2 separate regions of the Homo sapiens genome follow, and region 1 is linked to region 2. Evidence: fine-mapped expression QTL. Tissue or cell type: whole blood. Region 2 holds a variant in brackets; the other region holds the start of a gene. All regions are shown on one strand. Distances are from middle to middle. Region 1 holds the start of MAP4 (microtubule associated protein 4). Region 2 has its middle 42 kb from the start of MAP4.

What was found. PIP is the estimated chance that this variant, and not a neighbour inherited with it, causes the effect.
Region 1: it holds the start of MAP4, and the variant in region 2 is fine-mapped to the expression of MAP4 in whole blood (INTERVAL, PIP above 0.99).

The regions. Positions count from the first base shown.
Region 1 is chr3:48,010,065-48,021,735 of GRCh38, forward strand. It overlaps MAP4 (microtubule associated protein 4), which reads right to left and starts at 6,352. Exons shown (of 21, transcript NM_001385682.1): 1 at 6,270-6,352.
Region 2 is chr3:48,052,682-48,064,352 of GRCh38, forward strand. It overlaps a transcript of MAP4 not described here. Among named protein-coding and RNA genes, the nearest start is that of MAP4, 42 kb to the left of the region's middle. The variant G/A (reference allele first, on the strand shown) is at 5,579.

The DNA.
Region 1 (11,671 bases), 43 kb before region 2:
AGGGCATCTCTTCGTATTACCATGCCCTGTGATTACTGTCAATGCAAAACCACAACAGCCAAATCCAGGCAGGACTACAAATGATCCGGACCATTCAGGAATGAAGGTTTGGATCACTCCACCAGGAAAAAAACCCATGACCTGCTGAGGTATTTGGGGAAGGCAAAGTTAATACAGAATGGGTAGAAGAAGGTAGTCATCAATACCAGCTATGACCACGTGACCAGCTGCAGAAATGAGGACTGTAACTGCCATGAGTATTTCCTCCTTCATTTGTTAAAAACATGTTTGTGTATGTATACACATGTACTAATATCTTCACTTTATATTTCCTTTTCCTTTATCATGTGACATAAGATTTATTGATTTCATAACAGCATTTAAGTATTATTAACTTTATGTAATAGTATTTGGGTTGGGGATTGGTGTGTTTCTGGTTGTATGAAGGATAGTTTTATTACATTAGGTGTAATTATGACCTTATTATTGTCTTTATTTTAAGATTACATACGATCTCAGATGTATATGGGTTCAAGTTGACAAGGAGTGGACTTGTAATGTTAATACTGTCAACTTGATTGGACTGAAGGATGCAATATTGATCCTGGGTGTATCTGTGAGGGTGTTGCCAAAGGAGATTAACATTTGAGTCAGTGGGCTGGGGAAGGCAGACCCACCCTTAACTGGGTGGGCACCATCTAATCAGCCACCAGCGAATATAGAGCAGGAAGAAAAACATGAAGAGATGGGCCTAGCCTCCCAGCCTATATCTTTCTCCCGTGCTGGATGCTTCCTGCCCTCGAACATCGGACTCCAAGTTCTTCATTTTGGGGACTCGGATTGGCTCTCCTTGCTTCTCAGCTTGCAGACAGCCTACTGTGGGACCTTGTGATCACGTAAATCAATACTTAATAAACTCTCCTTTGGAGATATATCCTATTAGTTCTGTCCCTCTAAGAGAATCCTGACTAAAACAAGTAGTGTGGGGCTCGTGACAAAAACTGATAGCTTTGCTGCCAAAGGGGCTCCTGTGGCATGACAGAGCTGTTGTCCACAGCAAATGCCATCTCACACTACTGGAATTATAAATTCCACTATTTGAATAACCACTGCCGAATTCAGGATTTAGCAGCTTTTCTGAAGGAACCATAAATAGGAATTCAATGGTTCCTATAGTAGGAACTGGACTTGGTAATCCCAGCCTGTAATCTCCCAGCACTTTGGGAGGCCAAGGCGGGTGGATCACTTGAAGCCAGGAGATTGAGACCAGCCTGGCCAACACAGTAAAACCCTATCTCTACTAAAAATACAAAAACAGAATAACTAGCTGGGCACTGATTTTTATTATTTAGATGGTATGCACCTGTAATCCCAGCTACTCAGGAGGCTGAGGCAGGAAAATTGCTTGAACCCAGGAGGTGGAGGCTGCAGTGAGCCAAGATCACGCCACTGCACTCCAGCCTACGTAACAGAGCAAGACTCCGTCTCAAAAAAAAAAAAAAAAGTTCCTATAGTAGTAGTGGCACACCTGTGACCCATTTACAACAGACGAATGTGGGTGGGAAGCCCTATTCTATGCTCGTCCAGCCTACTTTACATATAAAGTATTATTGTAACTCCAGATCATGACAGGGAAAATGCTGAGAAATGAGTTCATTAAAGAGCTTTTAAAAGCCTAACAGATTATAATGTCAAAGGGTTCCATGAAAAGCAACTATTCAGTTGCTTTTACTATTCGGTTATGCCATTTCCCTATTCTATCTCTGACAACTATTATTAGTAGTTATCCTTTGGGAGCTGTTATGAACCAAAAACTAAAAAGGACGTCTGTAACTAGTTTTGATAGAGGCAAGAGGCAAACAAATGTCTAGGCAGACAGGGGCGGGTCCTCAGTGAAACCCGAACTTTAATCCGGAAACTGTCCTGGGTAAATCCTGAGATCGGATTAAGAACCTGCCTTCCCGTTTGGCATGATTGATCCCCATCCTTCACCTATTTAACCTGTACCTACCCTTTCCTAATTGGTTTTCTACACTGTCCTGCCCACCTTGGAGTGGTGTCTTCGCTTTGACCTTTTTTGCATACTCACAAACCAATGACCACACACTCCCATTCTGAACCAATAAAGAGCCCCAGGCTCAGCCATATTACGGAACTTTCCTGTCTTCAGGTAGTAGAACCACCTACCATGTTCTCTCTTTTTGCTAAGAGCTTTCCTTTCGATTAATAGATTCTACTCCACTCACTCTTTGATGTCCACGTGCCTAATTCTTCCGCTCCTGAGATAAGAACCTGGACCTAGTTGAGCTAAGGAGCAAAAATCCTGCATCAGTTTCATGGTCAAAGAGAACTTAAAAGGACATCTGTGCCATCCTTAACAACATACCATAAAAATCCAAAATTTAATTTTCCCCAGAAATACATAATGACATAAGATGCAATCTACTCAAATCTTTTCCTCATTTAAGGCACAGGGTAAAAATACAGTCAAAAACACCAATACATTTTAAATATCATTTATCAGAATGCAGATTATCAAAGGGCAGCTTTTATCCATTGTAATCTTTCCCCTATCCAACCCTCAGCACCCCCACCCCGCCCCCAGCCACACACTCTCAGATGACTTCCTGGGCTGCATGTGGTTCATGGAATATGAACAGTAGCTGAAATTCAGCCTAAGAGGGTAAAACTGATAGAAAATTATACAATTGGAAAGTGGGAAGGTCATGAAGCTATGAGCACATCTAGCTAGCCACTTAGCATCTGTATTTCATCAACAGTTAAGCTATTCTTTACTTGTCACCACATAAATAGAATATGATTTTAAAATACACACACACACCCCCTTATGGAAAATGATCCTAGAAAGGTAATGCTAGTGTCATCTTTCAAGTTAAAGTACTGTTGTTTTTTTTTTCCCAGAAATCCCCAGTTTTCAATAAATTAAAGCGATTATCCAATTTTATAGTTATTTTATTCTGAAACATGTATAAGTACAATACACTCTTTAAATGCTCTATAGATGTTAAACTGGTTCAAGTATTCCAAAATTAATTTTAATAAATTCATGTATGAATTTCATCTCACACAGAATCACTTGAAGTTACTTACTATTCGGTTATGCCTTAAATGCTTAGTTACATATTTTATGGATAAAAGGATATGACACTATTATTTTCAAATCTGGATGTTCAGGAGGATCAAAAAATGAACCCTTGTGAATGAGAAGCATTTACTCTAAAAAAAAAACCTCTCACTGACCAATTGACCATTTATACTATTCCTCTTCTATCCATACAGATAATAAAGTTAACTTTAAATAGATTTGTGAGTAAGAGTCAAGAGAATTTGAAAGCTGGGTACAGAAGTCTGTATGCTTTACTGAAGCACCAGTTTAATCTGACACTCACTGTGGCCTTGAATGAGTCACCTTTCAGGGCTGAGTTCTCTAATCTGTAAAATGAGAGTGTTATGTTAAATGTTTACTGAGGTTGATTATTCTATCAGCTACTTGTAATTCAGCTGCATCATTTCAGTTAGCTATAAATAAACCCCCTAAGACCCTCAGTGTGAATATGAACAACTATCATTTCATATTATTTCATATATCAAGTATTCTCATTTATAATTGGGTTGAGGTTTATTAAAAAAAAAAAAAAAAGCTTTTTGGCAAAGGGAGGGACTGAAAACAAATTCACCACTGCATGGTGCCCTGCTTGAGCCAATCTGACTGGAGCTTAAGAAACTCCACCCAGTTCTGGCTAACATCAAAGGAGACTCAACACCACTCTGCCAGAAAATAAGCCCTGTATTATCTAACCAGGCACTAAGGGAACACACAGTTTTCAAGCACAGCACTTTGTATATCTGATCTTTCATTCTGATGACATGCCTGAAGTGAAACTATTAGTGAGCCGGGTTTTTTAAAATAGGTAAACTAAGGCAAGAGGCAACTACATGGCATGATGATAAAATACTCTCTTGACTACAATCTCACTATTAAGAGCTAGGTGCTCATAAACAGGAAATAAGGATATATGATGAGGCCACAGTACTTTGTTGTATGCTTTACTTTGGATAGTTCACAAACTCTGGAATTAATTACTGTACTAAAAATATTTTACAGGTCTATACAGATTAAACAGTGTTAATATCTAACTTAATTACACAGAAGTTCTGAAGAACCTTTTAAGCTCCATGAAGTCCTCCTGAAAATTTTAGGTCATTCGCATCTAGAGCCACTCACTCGGGGTCTGTGCTCATTCTGTCTGATGAGAAATTGGCAATCTGGTTTACCAATGGCCTGTTGCTGTCTCTGTCCTCTTCTATTCACCCCTTGAAAGGTGCTACTATGGGAGCTAAAATGCAGGGAAAAAACTCATGAAAAGCTAGAACAGAGCTTGGGCAAAATGGCAAAACCCCATCTCTACAAAAACATGTAAAAATTAGCCAGGCATGGTGGCACATGCCTGTAGTCCCTGCTACTCAGGAGGCTGAGGTGGGAGGACTGATTGAGCCCAGGAGGTTGAGGCTGCAGTGAGCCACTATTGCACCACTGCACTCCGGCGTGGGCAACAGAGTGAAACCCTGACTCAAAAAAAAAAAGCAAGAACAGAAGCCTGATTCCCACCATCATACTCACTTTTCCTAACCACTGTGTTAGGAAACCTTCATTTTACTGTGTCACATTAGCCAAATTTCTACCGACATTCATTTGCAGTAGCCAGCATTCTCTTTTTAAAAGTATAGAATCCTATTTCTTAATTTAAAAGTGGGTAAGAAAATGTACATCCCTGGAAAGACCATTGTTCATCCCAGAGATGGTTCTATTGAAGATGTCTGAGTTCTTGGTTCTGGTGTGAAAAAGGAAGAAAAATATTATGGCAACATGGGAACTTTCAGGGAATAAAGCAGATATAGATATGGTATCAAAGTAGGGAAAGGGTATACAGGCCCAGGAGCCCTAGGAGGCAAAAGAAAGGGAGTTAATACCATGCCAAAGACAAGCTTGCTATCTTTCAAAATATCGCCTCCTGTCAGTTTCAGCAGAAAGAAATAAACTTTCTTCTCAGTGACCTAGGCTACTTTGAGGCAAATCATTTTGAGTTCCAAACAACCCATTTAATAAACTTTAAATAATTATTACTAAAGGTAGGATACTGCTTATAATGCTCACTTATATTTTCTCTATAACTGATAGCCTGTCCTTTTTGGGTGGGTGGGGGCGGGGGCGGTTATGGACAAGACAAGGAACCATAAAGATATCTGGGTTAATGTTTTCTTTTATACGTTTGTTTTTGCATGACATTTAAATGACAGAGAATTCTAAAGCCAACACTAAGCTGCTATCCTAGGACATTAGTGAGAATGCTGTGGCCAAAATATAGTGCTCATTCCTCAGGCTTGAAAGGAACCCCACGTCGCCAGTGTGGGAGATCATTTATAATCTTGATGGATACAGGTATAGCCTGCTTCATAATAATTTAATATTCAACATCAGATTTTTTTTTAGTATGCCTAGCAGGTTTTTAGTTACTAATTAACTTTATTACCCAGATTTGTTTCTTACTGAACTTCTTTCAGAGGCCTGTTATACATCAAGCTGAACTTTGTCTGGCAGCTGTGCTGTTTTTAATTTATTTAACCACAAAACCTTGATTTATACTTTCAAGCAAAATGATATTTTACTTAAAAATAAATCTTTAGCAAGGATGTCTACAGGAATCAACTACCAACTTACACAGTTCACAGACACATATGATTCCTCAGACAAATCTGAATTTCTCCTGCTTCTCCTCCAAACCAGACTTGCAGATAGCAACAGACAACTGAGGAAGATCTTGACTATCCTGAGCAATAAACTACAACCCCCCTGAAGAATATATTAACTGTCCACCCCTAGGTTCCTCCCTACACAGTTCAAGGACAACAGCTGTGCTATTACAAACTGATGGAATTTCCAGGCTTGACAGGGTTCTGTTCGTAACCACCATTTGTCCTGTTCATCATAGGATTAGCAACAGCAGAGAGCCCTTGATTACTAGAATAGCTGAGGCCATCACACAGCTACATTCCTACATGAAAGAACACACTGATATAGGTTTAAAGAAGTTATATTTTACTTTCATGTAGTTACCAGAGTCCCCCCCACCCCCCATTTAAGGGAGCCCTGTTCTCTGGATATAAAAATACTGTATACACTTGCACACACATACTCACATACATAAAACCTTGCATCACAAAGTTAAAAGGCTACCTTGCTTACTTACAGGAACTATCCAGGCAGCTTGTGTTCAGTCCTGACTAAATGCATTTTGGATCAGGCACCTGCCTTCAACATTTCTGTCCAAATGAATTTCAATCTATTTCTCCAGGAAGAACACACCAGATACCTCCCACTGTTAGCCATGTGATACAGGCAGCATGATGTCTGAAGTCTGGTTACGGTTATGTAGGCCAAAATAAGAAATGACAATGACACAGCACTTACATTTCTGATATCACCAACCTTAAGAATGAATCTTCCATTTTATCTAAATTTTTTAAATGAGTAAAACTTTAAAAGATTCTTAATACCTAACCCCTCAAAATTTTGAAAAAGGAGCATTTTTTTTAAACTTTACATTTATCCCACTTCCTTCCTCTAACACAGGAAAACATTCAGAGTTAATCTATACCAATCCAAAAATTATTTCTAACCACATTCTAAAGGCATTTTTTTTTTTTTTGAGACAGGGTCTTGGCCTGTTGCCCAGGCTGGAGAATGCAGTGGCATGATCTCAGCTCACTACAACCTCCGCCTCCTGGGTTCAAGTGATTCTCCTAACTCAGCCTCCTGAGTAGCTGCGATTGCAGGCATGCACACCACCATGCCTGGCTAATTTTTGTATCTTCAGTAGAGACGAGGTTTCATCATGTTGGCCAGACTGGTCTCAAACTCCTGGCCTCAAGTGATCCACCCATCTTGGCCTCCCAAAGTGCTGGGATTACAGGCATGAGCCACCATGCCTGGCTCTAAAGGCTTACACCAGTTGAACTGATCTAGGATCCAATCCCCTCACTTTAATAGATGGAAAAAAAAATGAGAAATGGAAAAAACAAGTCACTTACAAATGAGGCTGAGACAAAGGATCGGCGAAAAGAGCCACAGAACACCAAAAACAGAAGCAGAGCGTGACAAAATAAGCAAAACCTTACAGTTTTGTAGTTTCTGCTTTTATCTAACACAATGACTTCGCTGTACTTCATATACCTTTTGAATTATACCTGCTTATACATACCTTTACCTACCTACTACTTATACCTACCTATCTTTTCTTCTGCAAGGAGGGAGGCAGGCAGGAAGAATCCTGAACATCAGGAAAACATTCCACCTGATCTTTAAAGGGACCCCAATGCCTAGATGTCTTTTTCTTTTTTCTTTTTTTTTTTTTTTGTAAATCCAAACTCTTACGTGTAATATCAAGGCTGACTGACAAGACTCAGTCCTATCACCCACCATAATCATCAGCAGCTTTCCATGTAGGGTCTCCCTACAATTTAGTCACATGGGACCATCTACCATCTTACATTATCACTGTACACCCTATGCTCATTTGCTCTCCAAACTTGAAGTTATCTTCTCTCCCTCCTCATTTGTGAAAGTCTTGAAATCAAGGTCCACATAAATTGTCTTACCACCTTTTCTGTGACTGCTTTTTAGAATCTTTCTCCCAGTAGTATTCAGAACTAATACATCATCTGTACTTGTAACAGTAGAGTCTGATCTATACTGTAGTTCAGTGGTCCCCAAACCTTTTGGCACCAGGGACAGGTTTCGTGGAAAACAATTTTTCCACAGATAGCAGGAGGGGTGAGAGGGAGGAGATGGTTTCGGGATGAAACTCTTCCACCTCCGATCATCAGTCATTAGATTCTCACAGGAGCATGCAACCTAGATCCATCGCATGTGCAGTTCACAATAGGGTTTGCGCTCCTATGATAATCTAAAACCACTGCTGATCTGACAGAAGGCAGAACTCAGGCACACTTATCGCAAAGTTAATGTAATGCTGTTCACCTGCTGCTCACCTCCTGCCGTGCAGCCCAGTTCCTAACTGGCCATGGACTGGTACCAATCTACAGACCGAGGGTTGGGGACCCCCCACTGTAGTTAGTTGTATATACCAGCTCCTGTAAACTGCTGGGTCCCAGAAGAGAGGACCACATCAAAGTGATGTGCACACCTTCTCTGTTCCTAGTAGACTACAGAGGAGACAGGCCAAAATGATAAAAACCAACAAAACAAGGGGCTAAAAACACATTTCTAAAATGACACGATGAAAGTTATTAGAAATTGAATCTAATTTGAAATTAATCAGAAGTTCCAAAATTACAAAAACTCTTCACAACTAGAAAAAGAATAAACAGATTCAAGGCTGAAAGGTTATCACCAATTACAAATATTCACCTTGGCTAGGTGTGGTGGCTCATGCTTGTAATCCCAGCACTCAGCACTTTGGGAGGCTGAGGTGGGTGGATTATGAGGTCAAGAGATTGAGACCATCCTGGCCAACAAGGTGAAACCCCTCTCTACTAAAAATACAAAAATTAGCCGGGCGTGGTGGTGTGCACCTGTAGTCCCAGCTACTCGAGAGGCTGAGGCAGGAGAATCACTTGAACCTGGGAGGTGGAGGTTGCAGTGAGCCAAGATCGTGTCACTGCACTCCAGCCTGGGTGACAGAGTGAGACTCTGTCTCAAAAAAATAAAAATAAAAAAGAATATTCACCTATTTTCTTCCACTTTCTAAACACAGTTTGTACAAGAGCAAGCATGTTGTCTGGAATTATAGAAAGAAAGCCAGTAAGGAGTAACCGTACGAACCAGCTCTCCATGCTGGTCATCTTATCATTATTAGGCATAGCAATAAAAATAGCTCTCTCTGCTTTTAGAAAAGCATGACATGATGCAATGTGGCAAAAACAAATATTCAAGATGGTCGACCAGTTACTGGCCTGGCATGGTGACTCACACCTGTAATCCCAGAACTCTGGGAGGCCAAAGCAGGAAGACCACTTGAGCCCAGGAATTCAAGACTAGCCTGGGCAAGATGGCAAGACACCATCTCTACAAAAAAAAATGTTTTTAATTAGCTGGGCATGGTGGTGTGTGCCTGTAGTGCCAGCCTCTCAGGAGGCTGAGGCAGTAGGATTCCTTGAGCCCAGGAGCTTGAGGATGCAGTGAGCTATGATTACAACACTGTACTCCAGTCTGGGCGAGAAAGTGAGACCACATCTCTGAGGGACAGAGAGAGAAAGAGAGAAAGATATCAGCCACTACCATCATGTTAATATGATCATATAAATATTAAAACTTTATAATTATTAAAATATTAAATCTCTATAGTTATCAGCTCATATATCTGTCAGAAAGTAATAAGCATATCATGTAACTTTAGGATGACTTAGTGCTGAGGAGATTGGAAGAAAGGAAGAATATTCATACTTGATCAGCTCTTAGCTTTTGAGAACTATTTTATTAAAGAAAAAACTCTCTTTTGGCTGGGCATGGTGGTTCATGCCTATAATCCCAACATTCTGGAAGGCTGAGGCAGGAAAACTGCTTGAGCCCAAGAGTACAAGACCAGCCTGGGCAACACAGTTGAGACTGCGTCTCCACAGAAAACATTTTAAAATTAGCCTGCACACCTGTGGTCCCAGCTCTTGGGAGGCTGAGGTGGACGGATCACTTCAGCAGAGGAAGTTCAAGGCTGCAGTGAGCCGTGATAGCACCACTGCACTCCAGCCTGGGCTACAGAGTGAGGCCCTGTCTTGAAAATAATAGATAACAAAAGAAAAACTTCTCCCATTAAGCAAAGTGAAGTTTCACTCTATTTTATATCAGTGAAAATAAAGAAAAGTGGAAGGTAGAAGAGGACATAGGAATTTGTGCTGCCAATTCTATAATTTTTGTTTTGTTTTGTTTTTTGTGGGGTTTTTGAGACGGAGATTTTTGTATTTTTAGTAGAGACAGGGTTTCACCATGTTAGTCAGGCTGGTCTTGAACTCCTGACCTCAAGTGATTCGCCTGCCTCAGCCTCCCAAAGTGTTGGGATTACAGGTGTGAGCCACCATGCCCACCCTTGTAATTGTTTATTTACAATGTGTGTCCCACCCAGAGTTCCCCTTAACGCTTGAGTTCCTCGATGGCTAGGATAGCATCTTTCTCACCTTTTATCCTGGACATCTAAATATAATAAACTTGAAACCTCACAGGCTCTCATTAAATGCACATTTGTCCTGCTAGGTGCGCTCTGCTCCATACCATACCAGCCTTCTCTTGCTGGGGTTGATGTTTGCACAGCTGGAAGCACCCTCATAGTTCTTCTAAGTATTGGTTCTAGGCACGACTAAGGGTAGAGTAGCTCAGCTTTTCTGAGCAAGAAGGAGAAGATACAAACTCTATGGGAGTACTTAACAAGCATTTTGTAGTCGTGGCAAAGGCCTTACTTTGACCTAATATCTTACAGATGCTTTCAAAAAGGAGGGGGGGAATATCATTATTAAATGAAAATTGAACAGCAAAAGTTGAAGAGATCTTTCAAGTTATTAGTAACATAACTTTTAATATTTTACCTGAAATACAAGTAAAAATCTGAATTAAAAGTATTAAAAAAACAAAAAAAACACGCTGGATCAGAATTGTTCAGGGACAGGGTTAAGCAATATGAGTATTATTTGTTGTTGTTGTTTTGTTTTTTTTAGAGACAAGTCACACTATGTTGCCCAGGCTGGAGTGCATTGGCTAGTCACAGGTGTGCTCATTGTACACTACAGCTTCAAGCTCCTGGGCTCAAGCGATCCTCCAGCCTCAACCTCCCAGGTAGCTGAGACTAGAAGCATGTGCTACTGCACCAAAAATCTCAGTGTTGTTGGTTTTCTTGCAGTAAGGGTAATCATGACACAGAGAAATCTCATTAAAGTTGAGTCCGAGAGGCACCCACAATTGAGGGTCACTGAATTAATCAACAATCTACCTAATCCATTCAAGATAAAATTCACTGAAATGAAATGCAACACAGGATTAATACAACTTAACAATAGAAAGACATCACACTCCCCCTTGTTAGGAAGGTGTTTTAGAATCAGTTTACTAGATGTAGAATCTGAGGCACGGATTTTTGTACAAGTGATTTACTAAGGGAGTGCTTTTAGGAAAAACCTATAAGGTTTTATTTTATTTTAAGGTTTTATGATATTTTAAAGGTATCAACTATCCCCAAACTAATCTATAGTTTTTGTTTGTTTTTGTTTTTTTTTTTAGACAGAGTCTCACTCTGTTGCCCAGGCTGGAGTGCAGTGGCACATGATCTTGGCTCACTGCAACCTCCGCCTCCCAGGTTCAAGCAATTCTCCTGCCTCAGCCTCCTGAATAGCTGGGACCACAGGCGTGCGCCACCACATCCGGCTAATTTTTGTATTTTTAGTAGAGACAGGGTTTCACCATGTTGGCCAGGCTGTTCTCAAACTCCTGACCTTGTGATCCACCTGTCTTGGCCTCCTAAAGTGTTGGGATTACAGGCGTGAGACACCACGCCCGGCCTAATCTATAGATTTAACATAACCCCAAGCAAAGTCCAGTAGGTTTTTTCTTTTCAAATCAAACTGAAAAGTTGATCCTAAGTTTTACATA
Region 2 (11,671 bases):
CTCCAGATCTCATAAATTAGAATCAAAAGCAGAAAGCCAAAACTATTCTAAAATACCTTCCAGGATCACTAGGAGGACATTTGGGGTTCACAGCCAGACAGTGATGAACATCTCAAACCACAAGATGCACAGAACGGCTAAGAGGAAAATGAGCTTGCTGTGCACTACCCAATGGTTAACTGCTTGGAAAAATATGGAAACTGATAACGTGTTAAATATGTTCAATAACACATCTCAAATTTATGTCTAAGAACACATTTCAATTTCAACTCCATGTTAAGTTGAAAGGATAGCTTCCCAAATTATGACATATGTACCTTCACCTTTAAAGAAACAGAAACTAAAACAACTCCAAATATTATATGCTTTTACATCTACATTCATTCATTAAGTGGTTTTATAATTACTGGTTTTGAGTTATACTGCAGCTACTCACATCATAAGAAAAAGACAACATAAAGTACAAGAATAAACTTGAGTATAATTTTTAATTAGACCTGATGCATCAATCTGAATAGCTAATACCAAAAATCCTAAGCTATGAAATCTAAATTTCCCAATAAATCTGAACATCTGCAAGTATACCACATAGCAATTAGAAAAAACTGTACTATGGAAAAGATTTAAGTCGTTCTGGTTTCTGTTTTGCAAGTTCCAGCAGAAAACTAATGCTAGGGTTCATTGAAACAACACTGCTAGTATCTCCTATTTCCTCCAAGAACAAACAAGAAAGCCATTATTATCTCAAATGTTCTTCTGAAAAGTATAATGACCCTTCTTATAATATTATGGAAAATATGAACAAGAATTTTAATCAAAATAGCATTCGTAAAGCCACATGAACACTTTTATTTTTTTTATTTTTAAACTTTAAAATCTAAATACCTACCCAAATACCCAGTGTTTCTAAAACTAATGACTAAATCTGATTTACTTCTAACTCTCTCTAGTATATAAGTGATGTCTGAACTATGAGATTCATGTGAAAATGTACGTCGTTTATTTGTACATGATCTGTCTCTCAGGCACTCGACCTAGGGGAGTAACACATATTGATGATCTCCAGAATGTGCACATTACAACCTGATTGATACCAAATTGGTGCTATATTCATGCATTTATTAACAAGGAATGATGCTTATATCGAGCAAAAAGTTCATGAGTAGTATATATAGTTCTTATTTTCACAAGAAAAATATGTATATATATTCACAGGAAATGTCTAGAAGAATATATATGAAAATGTTATTCTCTTTTATAATTTTTGTGTTTCTAAATTATCTACATTAAATAAAACTTTTGCAAAAAGAAAAAATAAATGTCATTTTAAAAACATACCCAGCCAGGCATGGTGGCTCACACCTGTGATCCCAAAACTTTGGAAGGCCGAGGCAGGCAGATCATGAGGTTAAGAGACCAAGACCATCCTGGCCAACATGGTGAAACCCCATCTCTACTAAAAATACAAAAATTAGGTGTGGTGGCACGCACCTGTAGTCTCAGCAAGTCAGGAGGCTGAGGAAGGAGAATCACTTGAACCCAGGAGGCGGAGATCGCAGTGAGCCGAGATCGCGCCATTGCACTCCAGCCTGGCGAGAGAGCAAGACTCTACCTCAAAAAACAAAAAAAACAAAAAACAAAAACAAAAAATCAGCTGGAGCAGGCCAGGCACGGTGGCTCACGCCTGTAATCCCACTTTGGGAGGCCAAGGTGGGTGGATCATGAGGTCAGAAGTTCAAGACCAGCCTGGCCAACATAGTGAAACCCCGTCTCTACCAAAAATACAATAAAGTAGCTAGGATTACAGGTGTGGTGGCGGGCGCCTGTAATCCTAGCTACTCAGGAGGCTGAGGCAGGAGAATCACTTGAACTCGAGAGGCAGAGGTTGCAGTGAGCCGAGATCATGCCACTGCACGCCAACCTGGGCGACAGTGTAAGACTCCATCTCAAAAAAAAAAAAAAAAAAAAAAAAAAAAATTAGCTGGCCATGGTGGCGGGCTCCTGTAATCCCAGCTACTCAGGAGGCTGAGACACGAGAATCACTTGAAACCTGAAAGCAGAGGTTGCAGTGAGCCAAGATCATACCACTGCACTCCAGCCTGGGCGACAAAGCAAGACTCTGTCTCCAAAAAAAAAAAAGAAAAGAAAAGCCCCAACAAAAGTCAGTCTTCTTTAGCTAAAAGACCAAGAAAGTAGCAGTCTAGCAAGACAGAAAAGTTTTAGACAATAACCAATCTACCCCAGCCAAACACCAAGAAAATACTGTGGTTTAAAACCTACCCGTTCTAGCAAAGGCCAAGTGGGGAGCCTAGATTTCCAACCTCTCAAAGCTGTAATTAAGCACTCAATACCCCTTCCAAGGTGGAGACAGAAAGCCAAGTAGGGTATCCAGGAATTTCATCCCTGCAGACCAGTAACAAGATCAGCGGGGACCACGTGGGGAACCTGGGCCTCCACCATATTATATCAATACAAATGGCAGTTTCTTTAAAAAGTCTCCCTCTCCCTCTCCCTCTCCGTCTCCGTCTCCGTCTCCGTCTCCGTCTCCGTCTCCGTCTCCCCATGGTCTCCCTCTCATGCGGAGCCGAAGCTGGACTGTACTGCTGCCATCTCGGCTCACTGCAACCTCCCTGCCTGATTCTCCTGCCTCAGTCTGCCGAATGCCTGCGATTGCAGGCCCGCGCCGCCACGCCTGATTGGTTTTGGTGGAGACGGGGTTTCGCTGTGTTGGCCGGGCCGGTCTCCAGCCCCTAACCGCGAGTGATCCGCCAACCTCGGCCTCCCGAGGTGCCGGGATTGCAGACGGAGTCTCGTTCACTCAGTGCTCAATGGTGCCCAGGCTGGAGTGCAGTGGCGTGATCTCGGCTCACTACAACCTACACCTCCCAGCCGCCTGCCTTGGCCTCCCAAAGTGCCGAGATTGCAGCCTCTGCCCGGCCGCCACCCCGTCTGGGAAGTGAGGAGTGTCTCTGCCTGGCCGCCCATCGTCTGGGATGTGAGGAGCCCCTCTGCCTGGCTGCCCAGTCTGGAAAGTGAGGAGCGTCTCCGCCCGGCCGCCATCCCATCTAGGAAGTGAGGAGCGCCTCTTCCCAGCCGCCATCACATCTAGGAAGTGAGGAGCGTCTCTGCCCGGCCGCCCATAGTCTGAGACGTGGGGAGCGCCTCTGCCCCGCCGCCCCATCTGGGATGTGAGGAGCGCCTCTGCCCGGCCGAGACCCCGTCTGGGAGGTGAGGAGCGTCTCTGCCCGGCCGCCCCGTCTGAGAAGTGAGGAGACCCTCTGCCTGGCAACCACCCCGTCTGAGAAGTGAGGAGCCCCTCCGCCCGGCAGCTGCCCCGTCTGAGAAGTGAGGAGCCTCTCCGCCCAGCAGCCACCCCATCTGGGAAGTGAGGAGCGTCTCCGCCCGGCAGCCACCCCGTCCGGGAGGGAGGTGGGGGGGGGTCAGCCCCCCGCCCGGCCAGCCGCCCCATCCGGGAGGGAGGTGGGGGGTCAGCCCCCCCGCCCCGCCAGCCATGCCGTCCGGGAGGGAGGTGGGGGGGTCAGCCCCCCGCCTGGCCAGCCGTGCCGTCCGGGAGGGAGGTGGGGGGGTCAGCCCCCCGCCCGGCCAGCCGCCCCGTCCGGGAGGTGAGGGGCGCCTCTGCCCGGCCGCCCCTACTGGGAAGTGAGGAGCCCCTCAGCCCGGCCAGCCACCCCGTCCGGGAGGGAGATGGGGGGGTCAGCCCCCCCACCCGGCCAGCCGCCCCGTCCGGGAGGGAGGTGGGGGGGTCAGCCCCCCGCCTGGCCAGCCGCCCCGTCCGGGAGGGAGGTGGGGGGGGTCAGCCCTCCCCCCGGCCAGCCGCCCCGTCTGGGAGGTGAGGGGCGCCTCTGCCCGGCCGCCCCTACTGGGAAGTGAGGAGCCCCTCAGCCCCGCCAGCCGCCCCATCCGGGAGGGAGGTGGGGGGGTCAGCCCCCCGCCCGGCCAGCCGCCCTGTCTGGGAGGGAGGTGGGGGGGTCAGCCCTCCGCCCGGCCAGCCGCCCCGTCTGGGAGGTGAGGGGCGCCTCTGCCCGGCCGCCCCTACTGGGAAGTGAGGAGCCCCTCTGCCCGGCCAGCCGCCCCGTCCGGGAGGGAGGTGGGGGGGTCAGCCCCCCGCCCGGCCAGCCGACCCGTCCGGGAGGGAGGTGGGGGGGGGGTCAGCCCCCCTGCCCGGCCAGCCACCCCGTCCGGGAGGTGAGGGGCGCCTCTGCCCGGCCAGCCGCCCCGTCCGGGAGGGAGGTGGGGGGTTCAGCCCCCCGCCCGGCCAGCCGCCCCGTCCGGGAGGGAGGTGGGGGGGGTCAGCCCCCCTGCCCGGCCAGCCGCCCCGTCCGGGAGGTGAGGGGCGCCTCTGCCCGGCCGCCCCTACTGGGAAGTGAGGAGCCCCTCTGCCCGGCCACCACCCCGTCTGGGAGGTGTGCCCACTAGCTCATTGAGAACGGGCCAGGATGACAATGGCGGCTTTGTGGAATAGAAAGGCGGGAAAGGTGGGGAAAAGATTGAGAGATCGGATGGTTGCCGTGTCTGTGTGGAAGGAAGTAGACATGGGAGACTTTTCATTTTGTTCTGCACTAAGAAAAATTCCTCTGCCTTGGGATCCTGTTGATCTGTGACCTTACCCCCAACCCTGTGCTCTCTGAAACATGTGCTGTGTCCACTCAGAGTTAAATGGATTAAGGGCGGTGCAAGATGTGCTTTGTTAAACAGATGCTTGAAGGCAGCATGCTCGTTAAGAGTCATCACCAATCCCTAATCTCAAGTAACCAGGGACACAAACACTGCGGAAGGCCGCAGGGTCCTCTGCCTAGGAAAACCAGAGACCTTTGTTCACTTGTTTATCTGCTGACCTTCCCTCCACTATTGTCCCATGACCCTGCCAAATCCCCCTCTGTGAGAAACACCCAAGAATTATCAATAAAAAAATAAATAAATAAATAAATAAAAAAGAAAAAAAAGAAAAAAAAAAAAAAGTAAGCATGCGACTACCATATGGCCTAGCAACTGTACTCCTAGGCAAACTGCCGAACTATTTTTCAGAGTGGCTGTACCACTTTACTGTTAACTGTTTCAATGTCAATACCCTGGTTGTGATATTGTACCATGATTCTGCAAGAAATTTCCACCAGGGGAAACTGGGTAAAGTGTACAAGGGATATCTCTGTATTATTGTTTCTTACAATTGAATGTAAATCTATAATTATCTCAAAATTATTTTAAAAAACTGTGTTTAAAAACTAAATTAAAAAACACAAATATACTAAATATTTAGACTTAAGGCTGAACTATGAGTTACATATCCTTATATCCCAAGCACCTACACCAAAGCCTAGAACATATTAGACAATAAATATTTATTGAATTAGATTGAACATACAATCAGCACTTCAAAAATATAAGATGCTTACAAACCTAACAGTTCCATTTCGTTGGCTGTAAATAAAGTAACAATACCTTAAAACAAGTGCAAAAAAGTTACCTTCAAGAAAATATAAAGTATTCTGGAATTTTTTCAAAGAGAAAAATGACTCAGTCCTAGACTACAATGACTTAGATATTACCTCATTATTTT[G/A]GCTAATTTATTGTACGGAGAGAGGGAGGGAGGCCAGTAGGCCGGCTGGCCAGCCTGCGAGGCTTAAAAAGTACCATGTACATAATTTAAAAATTAGCATATAGTAGGGAGTCTTTAGAAACCAAGTAGCACACATAAATACTACACATACCCACCCACTTGCAAAGGTGTTTTAAGCCAAAAATCTTACTCTACGTGTCCAAGTTTCATCGGTATTTCTGATTTTCACTAGGTCTGGCTGAACAGGATTATGTCTTATCTTTTAGAGTAACTATCAGAACTGGTGATTATCTCCATCATCTATGAACACAGTCCTTTTCATCTGATAAAACTGGCATTCGGTAACAAGAAAGCATCTTATTTTACCAGAATGACCCAAGTAATTCATTAATTAAAGAAAAAAATGTATACAGGAATCTTTATTGTTGCTTTGGTTTGTTGGTTTTCTAAAACCAATAAAACAATTGTCTTTTCCTGCATAAACACCTGATTTGAAAATCTAGATACAATATTATTTTATTTTATTTTATTTATTTTTGAGATGAGGTCTTGCTCTGTCGCCCAGGCTGGAGTGCAATGGCACTATCTCGGCTCACTGCAACCTCCACCTCCTGGGTTCAAGTGATTCTCCCTGCCTCAGCCTCCGAGTAGCTGAGATTACAGGCGTGCACCACCACGCCCGGCTAATTTTTGTATTTTTAGTAGAGATGGGTTTCATCATGTGGGCCAGGCTGCTCTTGAACTCCTGACCTCAGGTGATCTGCCCTCCTTGGCCTCCCAAAGTGCTGAGATTACAGGTGTGAGCCACCGTGCCCGGCATTACAACATTATTTTAAACAGCCTTCATCATTAAGTAATGAAAGTGAAAGTAGAGTCAGCAGTCAGTAAAAACACTTTGTGATTGAATAATTCAAGTACAGAATTAACAGCCAAAACTACATGAACTGAACAGATAATGATAAAAACCCAATCAGGGCCAGGCACAGTGGCTCACACCTTAATCCCAACACTTTGGGAGGCCAAGGTGGGGAGATTGCCTGAGCTCAGTGGTTCGAGACCACCCTGGGCAACATGGTGAAACCCCGTTTCTACTAAAATACAAAAAATTAGCCAGGCATGGTGGCGTGCGCCTGTAGTCCCAGCTACCTGGGAGGCTGAGGCATGAGAATCACTTGAGCCTGGGAGGTGGAGGTTACAGTGAGCCGAGATCGTGCCACTGCACTCCAGCTTGGGCAACAGAGCAAGACTCCATCTCAAAAAAAAAAAAAAAAAAAAAAAAAAGACCTACTCAGGATAGCAACATTACAATAATGGCAAGCCATACTTATTTTGATCCTTTATGGTCCATATGAACACATGAAATCTTAATTATTTGAGAATTCAACAACTTTTGGGCTGGGTGCAGTGGCTCACACCTGTAATCCTAGCATTTTGGGAGGCTGAAGCGGGTGGCTCACGCCTGTAATCCTAGCACTTTGGGATGCTGAGGCAGGCGGATTGCCTGAGCTCGGGAGTTCGAGACCACCCTGGGGGCAACATGGTGAAACCCCATCTCTACTAAAATACAAAAAATTAGCCGGCTTGGTGGTACACACCTGTAATCCCAGCAACTCAGGAGGCTGAGGCAGGAGAATTGCTTGAACCTGGAGGATGCAGTGGGCTGAGATTGTGCCACTGCACTCTGGCCTGGGCCACAGAGTGAGACTCTGTCTCAAAAAAAAAAAAAAACTTTTGAACATCTCTCTCTTAAACCTCTGGCCTTTAAAATCCCAATCATATCACATTTAATATACATGGGTTATTAAATGGGTTCAGGAATTGTTAGTCTGCAGTAGAACTCTGCAACAAACAATAAACAGTTTCATCACCAAAAGGTACCTGGATGTAATCTCAATTAGTAAAAACTCAGTCACTCATATGTCACTGACATATTTCCTTTGGACAAGGCAACTCATTCTGTTGATCTTTCTCAGCCACTATGAAGTTTATCACTCATGCCTGTAAATGGTACATGGTCATGAACTGCTACAGAATAAAGTCCAAGAGAACCCACCAAAACTGTGGAAGATTAAAAGATTGATGGATCATTAAAAAAAAATGGATTATAGACCTAAATGTAAGATACGAAACTATAAAACTCCTAGAGGATAACATAGAAGAAAATCTAGGTGACCTAGGGTTTGGCAATGACTTCTTAGATACAACCCCAAAAACATGATGTAGGAAAGAAAAAACTGATAAGCTGGACTTTACTGAAGTTAAAAATTCTGATCTGCAAAATACACTGCTAAGAGAATAGAAACTCAACAGATTGGGAGAAAATATTTGCAAAACACATCTCTGACAAAGAACTGGTATCCAAAATATACAGAGGCCAGGCGCAGTGGCTCACGCCTATAATCCCAGCACTTTGGGAGGCCGAGGGAGATGGATCACAGGAGCCCAGGAGTTCAAGACCAGCCTGGGCAACGTGTCGAAACCCTGTCTCTACAAAAAAAAAAATAATAATAATACAAAAAAAATGTAGCCAGTCTTACAACCCAATCTCAAAATAAATAAAAAATTAAAAACGAAACAAAATATACAAATAACTTTTTTTATTTTTGAGACGGAGTCTCACTGTCGCCCAGGCTGGAGGACAGTGGTGCGATCTCGGCTCACTGCAAGCTCCGTCTCCCAAGTACACGCCATTCTCCTGCCTCAGCCTCCCAAGTAGCTGGGACTACAGGTACCCGCCACCACGCCCGGCTAATTTTTTTGTATTTTTAGTAGAGATGGGGTTTTACCACATTAGCCAGGATGGTTTCAATCTCCTGACCTCGTAATCCACCCACCTCGGCCTTCCAAAGTGCTGGGATTACAGGCGTGAGCCACCGCGCCTGGACCCAAAGAGCTCTTAAAATTTAATATGAAAATGAACACCTCCCCCTCCCCCTCCCCCTCTCCCTCTCCCTCTCTTTCCACGGTCTCCCTCTGATGCCGAGCCGAAGCTGGACTGTACTGCTGCCATCTCTGCTCACTGCAACCTCCCTGCCTGATTCTCCTCCCTCAGCCTGCCGAGTGCCTGCGATTGCAGGCACGCGCCGCCACGCCTGACCGGTTTTCGTATTTTTTTGGTGGAGACGGGGTTTCGCCTGTTGGCCGGGCTGGTCTCCAGCTCCTAACTGCGAGTGATCTGCCAGCCTAGGCCTCCTGAGGTGCCGGGATTGCAGATGGAGTCTCGTTCACTCAGTGCTCAATGTTGCCCAGGCTGGAGTGCAGTGGCGTGATCTCAGCTAGCTACAACCTCCACCTCCCAGCCGCCTGCCTTGGCCTCCCAAAGTGCCAAGATTGCAGCCTCTGCCCGGCCGCCACCCCGTCTGGGAAGTGAGGAGCGTCTCTGCCTGGCCGCCCATCGTCTGGGATGTGAGGAGCCCCTCTGCCCGGCAGCCGCCCCGTCTGGGAAGTGAGGAGCGTCTCCACCCGGCAGCCGCCCAGTCCGGGAGGTGGGGGGCAGCCCCCGCCCGGCCAGCCGCCCCGTCCGGGAGGGAGGTGGGGGGCAGCCCCCACCCGGCCAGCCGCCCCATCCGGGAGGGAGGTGGGGGGCAGCCCCCGCCCGGCCAGCCACCCCGTCCGGGAGGTGGGGGGCGCCTCCGCCCGGCCGCCACCCCGTCCGGGAGGTGGGGGGCACCTCTGCCCAGCCGCCCCTTCTGGGAAGTGAGGAGCCCCTCTGCCTGACCGCCACCCCGTCTGGGAGGTGTACCCAACAGCTCACTGGGAACGGGCCATGATGAGGATGGCGGTTTTGTCGAGTAGAAAGGGGGGAAATGTGGGGAGAAGATGGAGAAATCAGATTGTTGCTGTGTCTGTGTGGAGAGAAGTGGGCATAGGAGACTCCATTTTGTTCTGTACTAAGAAAAATTCTTCTGCCTTGGGATGCTGTTGATCTATGACCTTACCCCCAACCCGGTGCTCTCTGAAACATGTGCTGTGTCCACTCAGGGTTAAATGGATTAAGGGCGGAGCAAGATGTGCTTTGTTAAACAGATGCTTGAAGGCAGCATGCTCCTTAAGAGTCATCACCACTCCCTAATCTCAAGTACCCAGGGACACAAACACTGCGGAAGGCCGCAGGGTCCTCTGCCTAGGAAAACCAGAGACCTTTGTTCACTTGTTTATCTGCTGACCTTCCCTCCACTATTGTCCTATGACCCTGCCAAATCCCCTTCTGCGAGAAACACCCAAGAATGATCAATAAAAAAAAAAAAAAAAAAAAAAACATCACTATGTACCCCATGACTATGTACAATTGTTATCTGTCAATTAAAAATAAAATAATGTTTAAAAAATAAAAAAATTTAAAAAATTAAAAATAAATTAAAAAAAAGAAAATGAACAATGTGGCTGGGCGTGGTGGTTCACGCCTGTAATCCCAGCACTTTGGGAGGCTGAGGCGGGCAGATCACCTGAGGTTGGGAGTTCGAGACCAGCCTGACCAACATGAAGAAACCCCATCTCTACTAAAAATACAAAAAATTAGCCAGGCGTGGTGGCACATGCCTGTAATCCCAGCTACTCGGGAGGCTGAGGAAGGAGAATCACTTGAACCTGGGAGGCGGGAGGTTGTTGTGAGCCAAGATCGTGCCATTGCACTCCAGCCTAGGCAACAAGAGTGAAACTCTGTCTCAAAAAAAAAAAAAAGAAAGAAAATGAACAACCCCATTTTAAAAATAGGCAAAAGATCTGAACAGACACTTCACCAACGATATACGAATGGCAAATAAGCATATGAACGAAAAGATGTTCAATAACATATGTCATCAGAGAATTGCCAATTAAGACAACAATAATTCTGACAACCGTGGTTAAAAGAAATTATTAATAAGAAAAAAAGACTTCAAATTCATTAAAAAAAAAAAAGACAACAATGAGATGCCACCGTGTCCGTATCAGAATGGCCAAAATCCAAAGCACAACACCAAGTGCTGACAAGGATGTCAAACAATAGGAAATCTCATTCATTGCTAGTGGAAATGCAAAATGGTACAGCCAGCAAGGTGAGCTGGAATCACCTATAGTCCCAGCTACTCAGGACGCTAAGCCAAGAGGATTGCTTGAGCCCAGGAGATGAGTCTAGCCTGAACAACATAGCGAGACCTGTGTCTTAAAAAAAAAAAAAAAAAGTTATACCCAGTTTGGGAGGTTCTTACAATACTAAACATACTCTCTCACCACACAATCCAGCAATTGCACTCCTTGATATTTACCCAAAGATGAAAACTCATGTCAACACAAAAACCTACATGTGGACATTTATAGTAGCTTTATTCACAATTGCCAAAACTTGGAACCAACTAGGATGCCTTTAATAGGTGAATGGATAAGCAAATTGTAGTGTACCCAGACAATGGAATACTATTCAGCAATAAAAAGAAATGAGCCATCAAGCCACAAAAAGACATTGAGAAACCTCAAATGCATATTGCTAGGTGAAAAAAAAGCCAATCTGAAAGGCTATATACTGTATAATTCTAACTATACGACATTGTGAAAAAGGCAAAACTATGAAGACAGAAAGATATTAGTGGTTACAGTAGTTAAGGGGAAGAAGTAGGGATAAATAGGTGGAGTACAGGGGATTTTTAGGGCAGTGAAACTATTCCATATACATATTATTATGAAACCATCTTTGCAAAAATTATAACTGAGACAATTATTACAGTGAAAGAGATCTGATCTAACCAACTCCATCCTGCTTCTAACCTCCCAGCTGTCCTTGTTCATTCCTAGACTTAGCCCAAACTAACTTTGTTTGGGAGGAACTTAGTTTACAGTTTAGGTTAGTTTTCCCAGAACAAACCCCCTTCCTGGCTGGGGACTAGACTGCCTTTGCAGGACTAACAAATTCTAACAAGATTAGAAATCATGGTTTAGGAGTCATGCAGCTAGAGGCTGCAAGATTCTAAACCTCCCTAAATTACTCCTGGGGATAACATCATTATTGTAAAACCCAAGATCGTGTTTGAGATATTTTGCAGACCCTATATTCAATGGATTAGCTGGCACCACCCAGACTGATATAAACTGGCCTATCTTGTCTTGTGGCCCCCACCC